Homo sapiens: one gene and its partners. The protein of the gene in region 3 purifies or fractionates together with the protein of the main gene of each other region. This does not show direct contact. Each region holds a gene or a part of one and is shown on either strand. Other genes may lie near its edges. The genes, in order: FAM120A, DAPK1 and IFI30.

Region 1 (3,748 bases), on a different chromosome or scaffold from region 3:
CAAGAGAGATTTAAAAAGCTATAAAAAGCAAACATAATTCTGGGGCTATTTTAAGAAAAGGAAAACAACCCTATGTACTTCCTTGGTCCCTGAGGGTAGTACAATGTTTATTCTATAAGGATGATTTTGAGTCATAAAAATTAATATTCAGCATTCTCTGTTTAAGGGATTGAAACAGTGTATACCATTTAATAAAAGATACCCATAAAGTGGTTAAAACGTTTAAAACCATGATATCACTACATGCCTATTAGAATGGCTAAAAGAGAAAAAAATATGAGCAATACCAAGTGCTAGCAAGAATGCTGAGCAACTGGATCCTTACACATTGCTTGTGGGAATGCAGAATGGCACCACCACTCCAGAAAACAGTGGCACTTTCTTATAAAGTTAAACATACATTTATCATACGATCCAGCAATTCCACTCCTGGGTATTTTCCTAATGAAGACTTTTGTTTGTGCAAAAACTGGTACTCAAATGTCCATAGCAGCTTAATTCATAATAGCCCAAACGTGGAAACAAAGTATCCTTTAATAAGTGAATGGTTAAACTACAGTATAGCCATACTATGGAATACTACTTAGCAATAATAAGGAAGGAATTGCTGGTGTAGGTAACAACTTGCATGAATATTTAATTAAGGTTTTATACTGAGTGAAAGAAGCCAGGTTCAAAAGGGATGATTATAAAACTATAGTGATAGGGACCAATTCAGTGGTGCTGAGAGTAGAGGAGGGGAAGGATGTACACATAAAGGGGACAGCAGGAGAGATCTTTGTGGAGTGATGGAACTGTTCTGTATTCTGATGGTGGTGATGCTACCATACATTAAAATCAGAACTATTCATCCAAAGTAAATGTGTTAATTTTATCATATGATAATTTTTTTAAGATTAAGTAAAAACCACTGGCAAAGGAATTGACATGAACAATTCAGTATATATAATGTTGAGTAAATGAGACATTTATAAAAACTTTAAGCATCTTATTGGTGCTTTCTAGTGTTTTGTAAATTGGCAGAGGGGCATAATTTCCTGTTACCTTTGCTTAGAGAAATCTTTTTTTTTTTTGAGATGGAGTCTCACTCTGTCTCTCAGGCTGGAGTGCAGTGGCGCGATCTCGGCTCACTGCAACCTCCACCTCCTGGGTTCAAGCGATTCTCCTACCTCAGCCTCCCTAGTAGCTGGGATTATAGGCGCCTGCCATCATGCCTGGCTAATCTTTGTATTTTTAGTAGAGGCGGGGTTTCACCATCTTGGCCAGGCTGGTCTTGAGCTCCTGACCTCGTGATCCACCTGCCTCGGCCTCCCAAAGTGCTGGGATTACGGGCGTGAGCCACTGCGCCTGGCCAGGAGAAATCTTTTTTGATTTAGAGATTATTTCTTTTACAGAGTAGTAATTGTATTTTTTTGTTCAGTAGTAGTAATTGTATTTCTTTAACCATTAGAAGTTGGTCTACATGGAAAGACAGCCAGAACAATGAAAATAATAATACTTTGGCCTATGTATTGACTAGTTTTGTGTAGGTCCTAAAATAGCCTAATTTGAACTTGGCTTTAGCTAGTTACTTGGACAGTGTTTCTTCTTGTGTGCCTTGGGTCATTATAACCTTTGAAACTTCAGTGAATGACTTATGTTTATTTTAAAATCTTAGTGGCATGAAGTCACTGGAGCTTTCATAAATGTTTCTGCTATATGACTTGTGGTATCAGTGTAAGGGTTTATAATAAAGTCCTTCAGATCTTCTGAATTTGCTTCCATTGGAATTTTGTTAAATAATGCTCTTACATAAAATGGCGTTCATGCTATAAGTCAGTGGAAGAATGTGAGGTTAGACTATGGTTTAGAATTTTCATGGTTAGCATAATTACATGTTTGTATTTAGAGATGATGGTCTCCCTTCATGTATACTTGATGGGGGAAGAGAATGAACTGGTATCAGACCAGGTGCTTGCTAGATCCTTTCTCACATATTCCATCTCATTTAATCCTCAGAGTGCTTTGTTACCCCATTTTTCATGTGTAAAAACAGGATCTAGTGATTAAGTGACATCTGGGGACAAGTCATTAGTAACCTCAAGACGGAAGTGGAGTGCTAAAGTCAAAGTTCAGCTTCTTTGTGTAAGAATACTTTGTGGGTGTGCCTACCTACAATTCTCACCCCCAGGTCAATTACGATAGCTAACTGCTTCAGCTATGTTTTCTAGTTAGGATAGGAACAGTCATGTTGCTATTCAGAAGAAAAATGTCCATCAGTAGATCCTGGACACTGACAGTACATCTTATTCTTAAGGACCTTTAATTGACTGGAAGATTTTTAAGGTTCAAAACTGACCATATTATACCTCAAACTAGTCACTGTATATATTTCTCTGTTGTACTACTTTTGTCACTAGTTTAATTCACATAGCATAATGTCTTCAAGCTTCTTTCATGTTGTAGATTGTGTCAGAATTTCCTTAACTTTTAAGGCTAAGTAATACTCCACTGTGTATATGTACCACATTTTGTTTATCCATTCATCCACTGGTGGATACTTGGGTTGCTTCCACTTTTTGACTATTGGGAATAATGAATAATGCTTCTATGAGCATAGTATACAAAGAGCTGTTCGAGTTCCTGCTTTCAGTTCTTTTGGGTATATACTCAGAAGTAGGATTGCTGGGTCATATGGTAATTCTGTTTTTCTTTTTAAGGAATGGCCATATATTTTCCACAGTGGCTGTGTAGGCCATATATTTTATGTCATAAGTTATATAATATATATTATTATAATATAGTTCCATTTTTTCACATTAATGTGATTGCACTATACGTTATTCAGCAGTTTGCTTTTTTATTTGTAAGAAATCTTTCCATGTCTATACTTAGAGCTCTAAGTCTTTTCAGTCCCTAAATAGTATTCCATAATTTATCCAACCCCGACAGATGGTATACACATGATATATACACACAGTAGAGCTAAAGGTATGCACATTTTAAAAGCCACGTAGGACCATAGAGTCAACATTACCAGAACTTCAGACTTTGCAAGAAAGCCAGAAACCCAGATTTTTAAAAAAATTATTCCATTTTAAAAATGCCAAGCGAAGGAAAACTTGGTTCTAAGTTAGCTTCAGCTCTTGTGCCACCAATTTGTTATTTGAGCACTGATCTTTATCAACAATTATCATGGTCATCTAAATCTCTTCCTTTTTTTTTTTTTTACTTTAAAATTAAACCTATCAAAAACCACTCTGTCTTTTCCTGTCTGCCTCCTTGAACCTTTTTCAATGATCAAAATGCTTCCATTTCCTGGGGTTACTGCAATATGATGTTTCCTTAAATGCCACAATCCTCTTGGCCACTTCCATAGTATATTCTTCATTATATACTTCTCAATATTACATATTTTGAGGTGAGTGCTAACCCACATGTTTATTTGACATCTCACCATTTCCAAGGCACAGCCTCACTGTCCTCAAACACTTCAGCACCTGGTTTTACATTCTTATATATTATTTATACTGTGTCCCATCAACACAGACACTGACTCTTCACCTCTCTCATCTGGCATCCTGATTCTGCAACTGGAGTGAATTTCTAATTGCACTTTAGATACTCCAGAGCTTGGACCGTATAATTAGTGAGAAAAGTGACCCCACCTTTAACACTTCTGAACGCTGTGTCCCTGTCACTCCTTGCCGCTCCCACCGTCTGTCCCCTGCTTGCCTTCCGCCATTTCTCTTTTCCCATTCTGTTGGCT
Region 2 (3,748 bases), on a different chromosome or scaffold from region 3:
GATGAATCACTCTTTTTTTGTTGTTGTTGTTATTTTTGACTGTATTTCTCACCTCTCAAGACCCTTTTGTATTATCAAGCCCACTGCTTAAGCTAATACCATCTCCCAATTTGGGGACTTCCCCTTGATTCCTGTGTGCCCTTCCTGTGGGTCATTAATGCAATGTTATTTAAGACTAGGATTTGGCTGGGCGCAGTGGCTCACGCCTGTAATCCCAGCACTGTGGGAGGCCGAGCCGGGAGGATCACCTGAGGTCAGGAGTTCAAGACCAGCCTGACCAACATGGTGAAACCACGTCTCTACTAAAAATACAAAATTAGCCGGGCATAGTCACATGCCTGTAATCCCAGCTACTGGGTAGCCTGAGGCAGGAGAATCGCTTGAACCCGGGAGGCGGAGGCGGAGTTTGCAGTGAGCCAAGATTTCACAACTGCACTCCAGTCTGGGCCACAAGAGCGAAAACCCGTCTCAAAAAAAAAAAAAAGACTAGGATTTGACATAAGGCCTGAGGGGTATTCTTTTGTTTTGTTTTGCCTTGTTTTCAAGAGGCCAAAATCTTCACAGTTGAAAATTTCTGTTGAACCACAGAGATTTGAACCAACTCAGTTTAGAAAGCCTGGGGATTTGAACAACGGTATGGATCGGAAATCTCTTCATCTGTCAGTTTTCATCATTCTAGGCAGTAAAATAGATTTCCCTTTAGGAGCTTTTCACCGTTTGGGGTTCTCCAGCAGTGGGATGTGGGGAATCAACCCTTCTTCGTCTCCACCCAAACATTAGGTGGGAGCAAGGGGTGGGAAGTAGAGAAAGTGGATAGAGGTCTCCAGTGGATATGGGATCTTTGTGTAGACCAGCACAGTCCTCAGAAATCTCATGCAAGCAACATAGGTACTGTTATATTTTCTAGTGGCCACCTTTTAAAAAGTAAACAGGTGAGGCCGGGCGCGGTGGCTCACGCCTGTAATCCCAGCACTTTGGGAGGCCCAGGCGGGCGGATCACGAGGTCAAGAGATGGAGACCATCCTGGTCGACACGGTGAAACCCCGTCTCTACTAAAAATACAAAAATTAGCTGGGCATGGTGACGCGCGACTGTAGTCCTAGCTACTGGGGAGGCCGAGGCAGGAGAATCACTTGAACCCTGGAGGTGGAGGTTGCCACGCTCCACTACACTCCAGCCTGGCGACAGAGTGAGACTCCGTCTCAAAAAAAAGAAAGTAAACAGGTGAAATTAATTTTAATAATATATTTTGTTTAACCCAACGTATCCAAAATACTATCATTTGAAAGTGTAATGAATATAAAAATATTCATGAGATATTTTTCATTCTCATATCCATACTGTCTTGGACTCTAATGTGTATTTTACACTTACAGCACAATTAATTTGGGACTAGCTACATTTCAGCTCAACAATAGCCAATAGCATATGGGATAGCGCAAATAAACTCTGCGTCTCTGTTGCTTCTTTGGGTCTCGGAGACCTCAACCCTTTCTTCAGATTGCAAACCTTCTTGCCTTCAAGCCTCGGCTCCAACACCAGTCCGGCAGAGGAACCCAGTCTAATGAGGTACGCTCCCTTCCTGCCATTCTCTATTCCATTAACCTGTTTCGTGGTAAACGTAGGACTGATCCTCCAAAATTACCTTATTAATTAGCTTACATATTTATTATCTATCTGTCCCACCAGAATGCAGGTTTCCGGAAGGCAGGGATTTAAAAAAATCTGTTTTGTTCTATGTGATTTTCCCATACCAAGCACCGTGCCCGGCACAAGCTGGGATCCCAGTACACATCTCGGGACGGAAGAACCGTGTTTCCCTAGAACCCAGTCAGAGGGCAGCTTAGCAATGTGTCACAGGTGGGGCGCCCGCGTTCCGGGCGGACGCACTGGCTCCCCGGCCGGCGTGGGTGTGGGGCGAGTGGGTGTGTGCGGGGTGTGCGCGGTAGAGCGCGCCAGCGAGCCCGGAGCGCGGAGCTGGGAGGAGCAGCGAGCGCCGCGCAGAACCCGCAGCGCCGGCCTGGCAGGGCAGCTCGGAGGTGGGTGGGCCGCGCCGCCAGCCCGCTTGCAGGGTCCCCATTGGCCGCCTGCCGGCCGCCCTCCGCCCAAAAGGCGGCAAGGAGCCGAGAGGCTGCTTCGGAGTGTGAGGAGGACAGCCGGACCGAGCCAACGCCGGGGACTTTGTTCCCTCCGCGGAGGGGACTCGGCAACTCGCAGCGGCAGGGTCTGGGGCCGGCGCCTGGGAGGGATCTGCGCCCCCCACTCACTCCCTAGCTGTGTTCCCGCCGCCGCCCCGGCTAGTCTCCGGCGCTGGCGCCTATGGTCGGCCTCCGACAGCGCTCCGGAGGGACCGGGGGAGCTCCCAGGCGCCCGGGTGAGTAGCCAGGCGCGGCTCCCCGGTCCCCCCGACCCCCGGCGCCAGCTTTTGCTTTCCCAGCCAGGGCGCGGTGGGGTTTGTCCGGGCAGTGCCTCGAGCAACTGGGAAGGCCAAGGCGGAGGGAAACTTGGCTTCGGGGAGAAGTGCGATCGCAGCCGGGAGGCTTCCCCAGCCCCGCGGGCCGGGTGAGAACAGGTGGCGCCGGCCCGACCAGGCGCTTTGTGTCGGGGCGCGAGGATCTGGAGCGAACTGCTGCGCCTCGGTGGGCCGCTCCCTTCCCTCCCTTGCTCCCCCGGGCGGCCGCACGCCGGGTCGGCCGGGTAACGGAGAGGGAGTCGCCAGGAATGTGGCTCTGGGGACTGCCTCGCTCGGGGAAGGGGAGAGGGTGGCCACGGTGTTAGGAGAGGCGCGGGAGCCGAGAGGTGGCGCGGGGGTGCCACCGTTGCCGCAGGCTGGAGAGAGATTGCTCCCAGTGAGGCGCGTACCGTCTGGGCGAGGGCTTCATTCTTCCGCGGCGTCCCTGGAGGTGGGAAAGCTGGGTGGGCATGTGTGCAGAGAAAGGGGAGGCGGGGAGGCCAGTCACTTCCGGAGCCGGTTCTGATCCCAACAGACCGCCCAGCGTTTGGGGACGCCGACCTCGGGGTGCCGTGGTGCCCGGCCCCACGCGCGCGCGGGGCTGAGGGGTCGGGGGCGTCCCTGGCCGCCCAGCTTTAACAAAGGGTGCTCCTCTCCACCCCGCGAGGAGGGGCAGCTCCGGAGACCCGGTCTTCAGCGAGCGGGGTCTTAGCGCCGGGGAGGTCTACTTCCTTTTGGGGTTGCCATTTTACTATTATTATTGCCTTTTTTTTTTCTTCAAAAGGACTGGAGACTGATGCATGAGGGGGCTACGGAGGCGCAGGAGCGGTGGTGATGGTCTGGGAAGCGGAGCTGAAGTGCCCTGGGCTTTGGTGAGGCGTGACAGTTTATCATGACCGTGTTCAGGCAGGAAAACGTGGATGATTACTACGACACCGGCGAGGAACTTGGCAGGTAAAGGGGGTACCAGAAGCGTACCCTCCTGGATTGTGGAAATGCATAACGATGGGGCCATTGGGTGGTAAACAAATGCAGTTTGAATCAGGCGTCTCCCTCGCCCTTTCTGGAGATGCGCAAATCATAGAGAAAAGAGTTACTAACCCAGCGGTAAACCGCCTGATCCAAGGGCCTGGGGGTGGAGGAGAGGCAGCAGTTCAGGGCTAGATTATGATGCACAGTATATTGATCCAGTCCCCTGGACAAAATCAGATTTAATTGTCCGTGCTAACTCTTGTCAGCCCTTGCCCTTCTGTGACAACAGGACAAACACTAAGATTATAATTGCAATTGGAGTTA
Region 3 (3,748 bases):
GGCTGAACCTGGGGCAAGTGCAGAAAGAAACCTCCACTCTGACCCAGTCTACTGCTGGGACCTTGGGACAGGACCTGCCTCCCTTAGCCTCAGAGCCCCCTAGCCTTGCCAGGCACTGTCCCTGCCATGTGTCCTGTCTGGAGATAACCCATAAATAACTCCAGCCCAGATTGTGCCTCTCACTGCATAGGTGCTCACAGGAGAAAGGTTGCCATCTTTATGATCCCAGCTATGCTGAGCTGGGGGTGGAAGAGAATATCCCGTGTGGTCTCTAAAAACACTCAACCACTGGCTGTGTGTCCTTGGCAAAATAGCCTTCCCTCTCTGATCAGCCATTTATTTGTTACCAGCTGGAGTCAGTAGCACCTACCCCCAGCCCCAACTGGATGCTTCTGAGGGTTCAATGATAAAATGGGTTGTAGGCCCACTCTATGCCTGGCACCAAGCCAGAGAGCAATACATTGTAGGGTTACATTTATGATTTCTTCCAATAGGGCTGGTGCCTGGTAACTACTGGAAAAATTGTAGCAATTATATTTATGGTTATTTCTTCAATCCCACCCGGCATAGGGTAAGCACCAAAGTTGGGGTGGTGAGTCTTGGGGAGCCTTTGCCAACGGTTTGGTCGTCTGAGGGATGGGCTCGGGGACCATCCAGCCACTGGGACTTCAGAGAAGCTCCGGCTCCCAAACCAGCTACTGTGTGTGTGGCCAGGGTCTTCCCCACAACTAGAGGGGGGCACAGCTGGGGACTCAGGTATATCTTCCAGCTGGGTGTGGGACATTTTCTTCCCTAGGATCCGATGTGTCTTGCCCTGAATGTAAGGCCTGGCAGGGTTGGAATGTCTCAGTTATTCCCCCAACACTCCAGCCTCCATCTGGGCCTTTTTTCCAGGCTATTCTCTCTGCCTTCACTGTTGGGGCCACTGTCCTGTGTAGGCACCAAGGCCTGACCATGCCATCCAGAAGCCCCAGCCTGGGACAACTCTCCCCCACCTGCCTCTGAGCCCTCCATGGTGACTCTTGTTCCCCAAACCTTATCCTTCTCCCCATTACACAGAAGGGAAAGCTGAGGCTCTGTCACTCAAATCCAAAGCCAGGTGGACTCCAAGCCACCCCACCCCTATCCCAGACAGCACAGGCTGCCTCTCTCCCCCATGGGCGTCCCTTGAAGGCCAGGTTGCCCCCCACCCCCCACAAGCCTTGAACGATGAAAAGAAGGAAGGCCAGTTCTCTTCACCCCAAGCCAGAAGTGGGGCTGGGTGGGTACCCTAGAGAAATGACACGCCACTCCCTGCGCCAGCTTCTGCTTTCCGGCGTGGCTGTGGTCAAGCCTGAGTCAGTCCCACGGGACCACGGTGAGGGGTCTGGAGCGTCGGGGTCAGGAGTTTGAGGGGGGAAGGGTTGAGGGGCAGGATGTGGGGGTTGGGTGTGAGGGAGGTCACGGGCGAGACTGGAGGGAGGAGACCTGGCCACACAGGCCTTGCCCACTCTCGGGGGCCTGAATATTTCAGTTACTCCCCCAAAACCCCGGCCTCCATCCCATCCCCAGCCTCCATCCGACGTCACCCCTGTTAGGTCACAGGCCCACTCTGAGAGTGGGTCTCGGGCCTCAAGTCCCCTAGCCGCCCCTAGAAGGTCTAGGGGTGCGTGGAGACACCACCATTCCTCTCAGCCTGTGTCTGTCTCAAAGGCCCCACCTCACCTCCCCTAAAGGTAGTCTTGCGCCAGGGCTCACGTGCCTGGGCAGGGCTGATTGCCAAGGGGCCCAATGGCCTCGTGACTGGGGACCCAGCACCTGGCAGGGGTGGGGGTGGGACACTCAGAGGAAGGAGTGGAGGAGGGAGAGACGCTGGCCCGGGACCCGAGGGGCGTGGGCATCGGGAGGCGGGCCCGGGTTAGGGGCGGGACCGCCGCCTGGTTAAAGGCGCTTATTTCCCAGGCAGCCGCTGCAGTCGCCACACCTTTGCCCCTGCTGCGATGACCCTGTCGCCACTTCTGCTGTTCCTGCCACCGCTGCTGCTGCTGCTGGACGTCCCCACGGCGGCGGTGCAGGCGTCCCCTCTGCAAGCGTTAGACTTCTTTGGGAATGGGCCACCAGTTAACTACAAGGTAGGGACGGCGACAGGGCGGGCAGGCTGGAGGGAACAGGCGCCCTGTCGGGGCACGCGGCTCCTTCTTTCTCCCCAGACTTCACAGGGGAAGACCAGGGCCCCGAGGGGACGCTGTCCCTGCCGGGTTCCTGGAAAAACCCTGTTCAGTTCCCGGCGCTGCGGCCACACTCCCTCCGTGCCGTTTCGCTTTCGCATCCCGCATCTGAGAGGCGCAGCTGCCTCCACCCGCCTAGTCCCGCCCAAGGGTTCAATGAGCGCCTACTGTGTACTTTTGGGGCAGGAGCTGGGGTCTCCTTTTGTGGCCCAGGGCACAAGTTCAGCAGCTGGCCAAGGGCCGCCGGCATGCATTCTTGCTGCTACCCTTGATGCATTCATTCCAGCCAGGGCAGGGCTCGCGTGTCTTTGGGACCTATTAGGCAGATGCCCTAGAGGCTGAGCGACTTGCTCACCGCTCCAGCGACATGGGCCACCCGCCACCCCTCAGCTGAAGCCGGAAGTCAGCACCTATTAGGTGCCGCCTCTATTCAGTCGGACTTGGAAAGGGTTCACGTGGATCCCTTGCTCAGCTCAGAGGCAAGGTCTCCAGGTGAAGTGACAAGAAATGAGCATGGGCCAAGGCCGGAGGCGGTGGCTCATGCCTGTAATCCCAACACTTTGGAAGTCTGAGGCAGGCAGATCACGAGGTCAGGAGTTCGAGACCATTCTGGCCTACATGGAGAAACCCTGTCTCTACTAAAAATACAAAAATTAGCTGGGTGTGGTGGCATGTGCCTATAATCCCAGCTACTCAGGAGGCTGAGGCAGGACAATTGCTTGAACCAGGGAGTCGGGTGTTGCAGTGAGCCGAGATCGTGCCGCAGCACACCAGCCTAGCGACAGTGAGACTCCATCTCAAAAAAAAAAAAAAAAGTCTCAAAGTCAAGATTCCACCTGGCAAGTTCTGGAAGGCGTGCAAGATGAATTGCGTATCACAGCCCCCTTTCTACAAGACTACCAAGTGGGGTTGAGAGAAGTGGGGAACTGCCCAGGGCTACACCTGCCTCCCACGCCTTCCTAATCCACAGACAGGCAATCTATACCTGCGGGGGCCCCTGAAGAAGTCCAATGCACCGCTTGTCAATGTGACCCTCTACTATGAAGCACTGTGCGGTGGCTGCCGAGCCTTCCTGATCCGGGAGCTCTTCCCAACATGGCTGTTGGTCATGGAGATCCTCAATGTCACGCTGGTGCCCTACGGAAACGCACAGGTGTGTGGGCGCTGGGGAAACTGAGGCACGTGGGCAGGGGAGCAGGGGACCCAGCCTACCAGCAGGCTCTCACCCTGCTGCCTTGCAGGAACAAAATGTCAGTGGCAGGTGGGAGTTCAAGTGCCAGCATGGAGAAGAGGAGTGCAAATTCAACAAGGTGGAGGTGAGCGGCCCCAGGGCCCCACACTGGGGTGGGGGAAAACTGTCCCACGTACAGGAGGCAAATACGAGGATGCCAGCTCTGTCTTCTGCCTCGTGTGCTCCCATTTAATCACATCTTTATTCCCTATCTCCTGGGTGGGTACTGGTGATTATTACGAGAGGGTGTCAGGGTACCCTAGGCCCTCTTCATGCCCTCTCCTGCCCCCTCTCCAAACCCCAGGCCTGC

The links.
Region 1: the proteins of IFI30 (region 3) and FAM120A purify together in Homo sapiens (affinity purification with mass spectrometry; 3 studies listed by BioGRID and IntAct, with this or other methods). This does not show direct contact.
Region 2: the proteins of IFI30 (region 3) and DAPK1 purify together in Homo sapiens (affinity purification with mass spectrometry; 5 studies listed by BioGRID and IntAct, with this or other methods). This does not show direct contact.

The regions. Positions count from the first base shown.
Region 1 is NC_000009.12:93,454,608-93,458,355, forward strand, and holds part of FAM120A (constitutive coactivator of PPAR-gamma-like protein 1), read left to right. Parts: intron 1-3,748. UniProt on the Homo sapiens protein: Component of the oxidative stress-induced survival signaling. May regulate the activation of SRC family protein kinases. May act as a scaffolding protein enabling SRC family protein kinases to phosphorylate and activate PI3-kinase.
Region 2 is NC_000009.12:87,495,734-87,499,481, forward strand, and holds the start of DAPK1 (death-associated protein kinase 1), read left to right. Parts: upstream 1-2,133; 5' UTR 2,134-2,374; exon of another isoform or gene 2,375-2,639; intron 2,640-2,848; exon of another isoform or gene 2,849-2,903; intron 2,904-3,236; 5' UTR 3,237-3,344; coding exon 3,345-3,406; intron 3,407-3,748. UniProt on the Homo sapiens protein: Calcium/calmodulin-dependent serine/threonine kinase involved in multiple cellular signaling pathways that trigger cell survival, apoptosis, and autophagy.
Region 3 is NC_000019.10:18,171,863-18,175,610, forward strand, and holds the start of IFI30 (gamma-interferon-inducible lysosomal thiol reductase preproprotein), read left to right. Parts: upstream 1-1,950; 5' UTR 1,951-1,979; coding exon 1,980-2,111; intron 2,112-3,177; coding exon 3,178-3,360; intron 3,361-3,448; coding exon 3,449-3,523; intron 3,524-3,742; coding exon 3,743-3,748. UniProt on the Homo sapiens protein: Lysosomal thiol reductase that can reduce protein disulfide bonds. May facilitate the complete unfolding of proteins destined for lysosomal degradation. Plays an important role in antigen processing.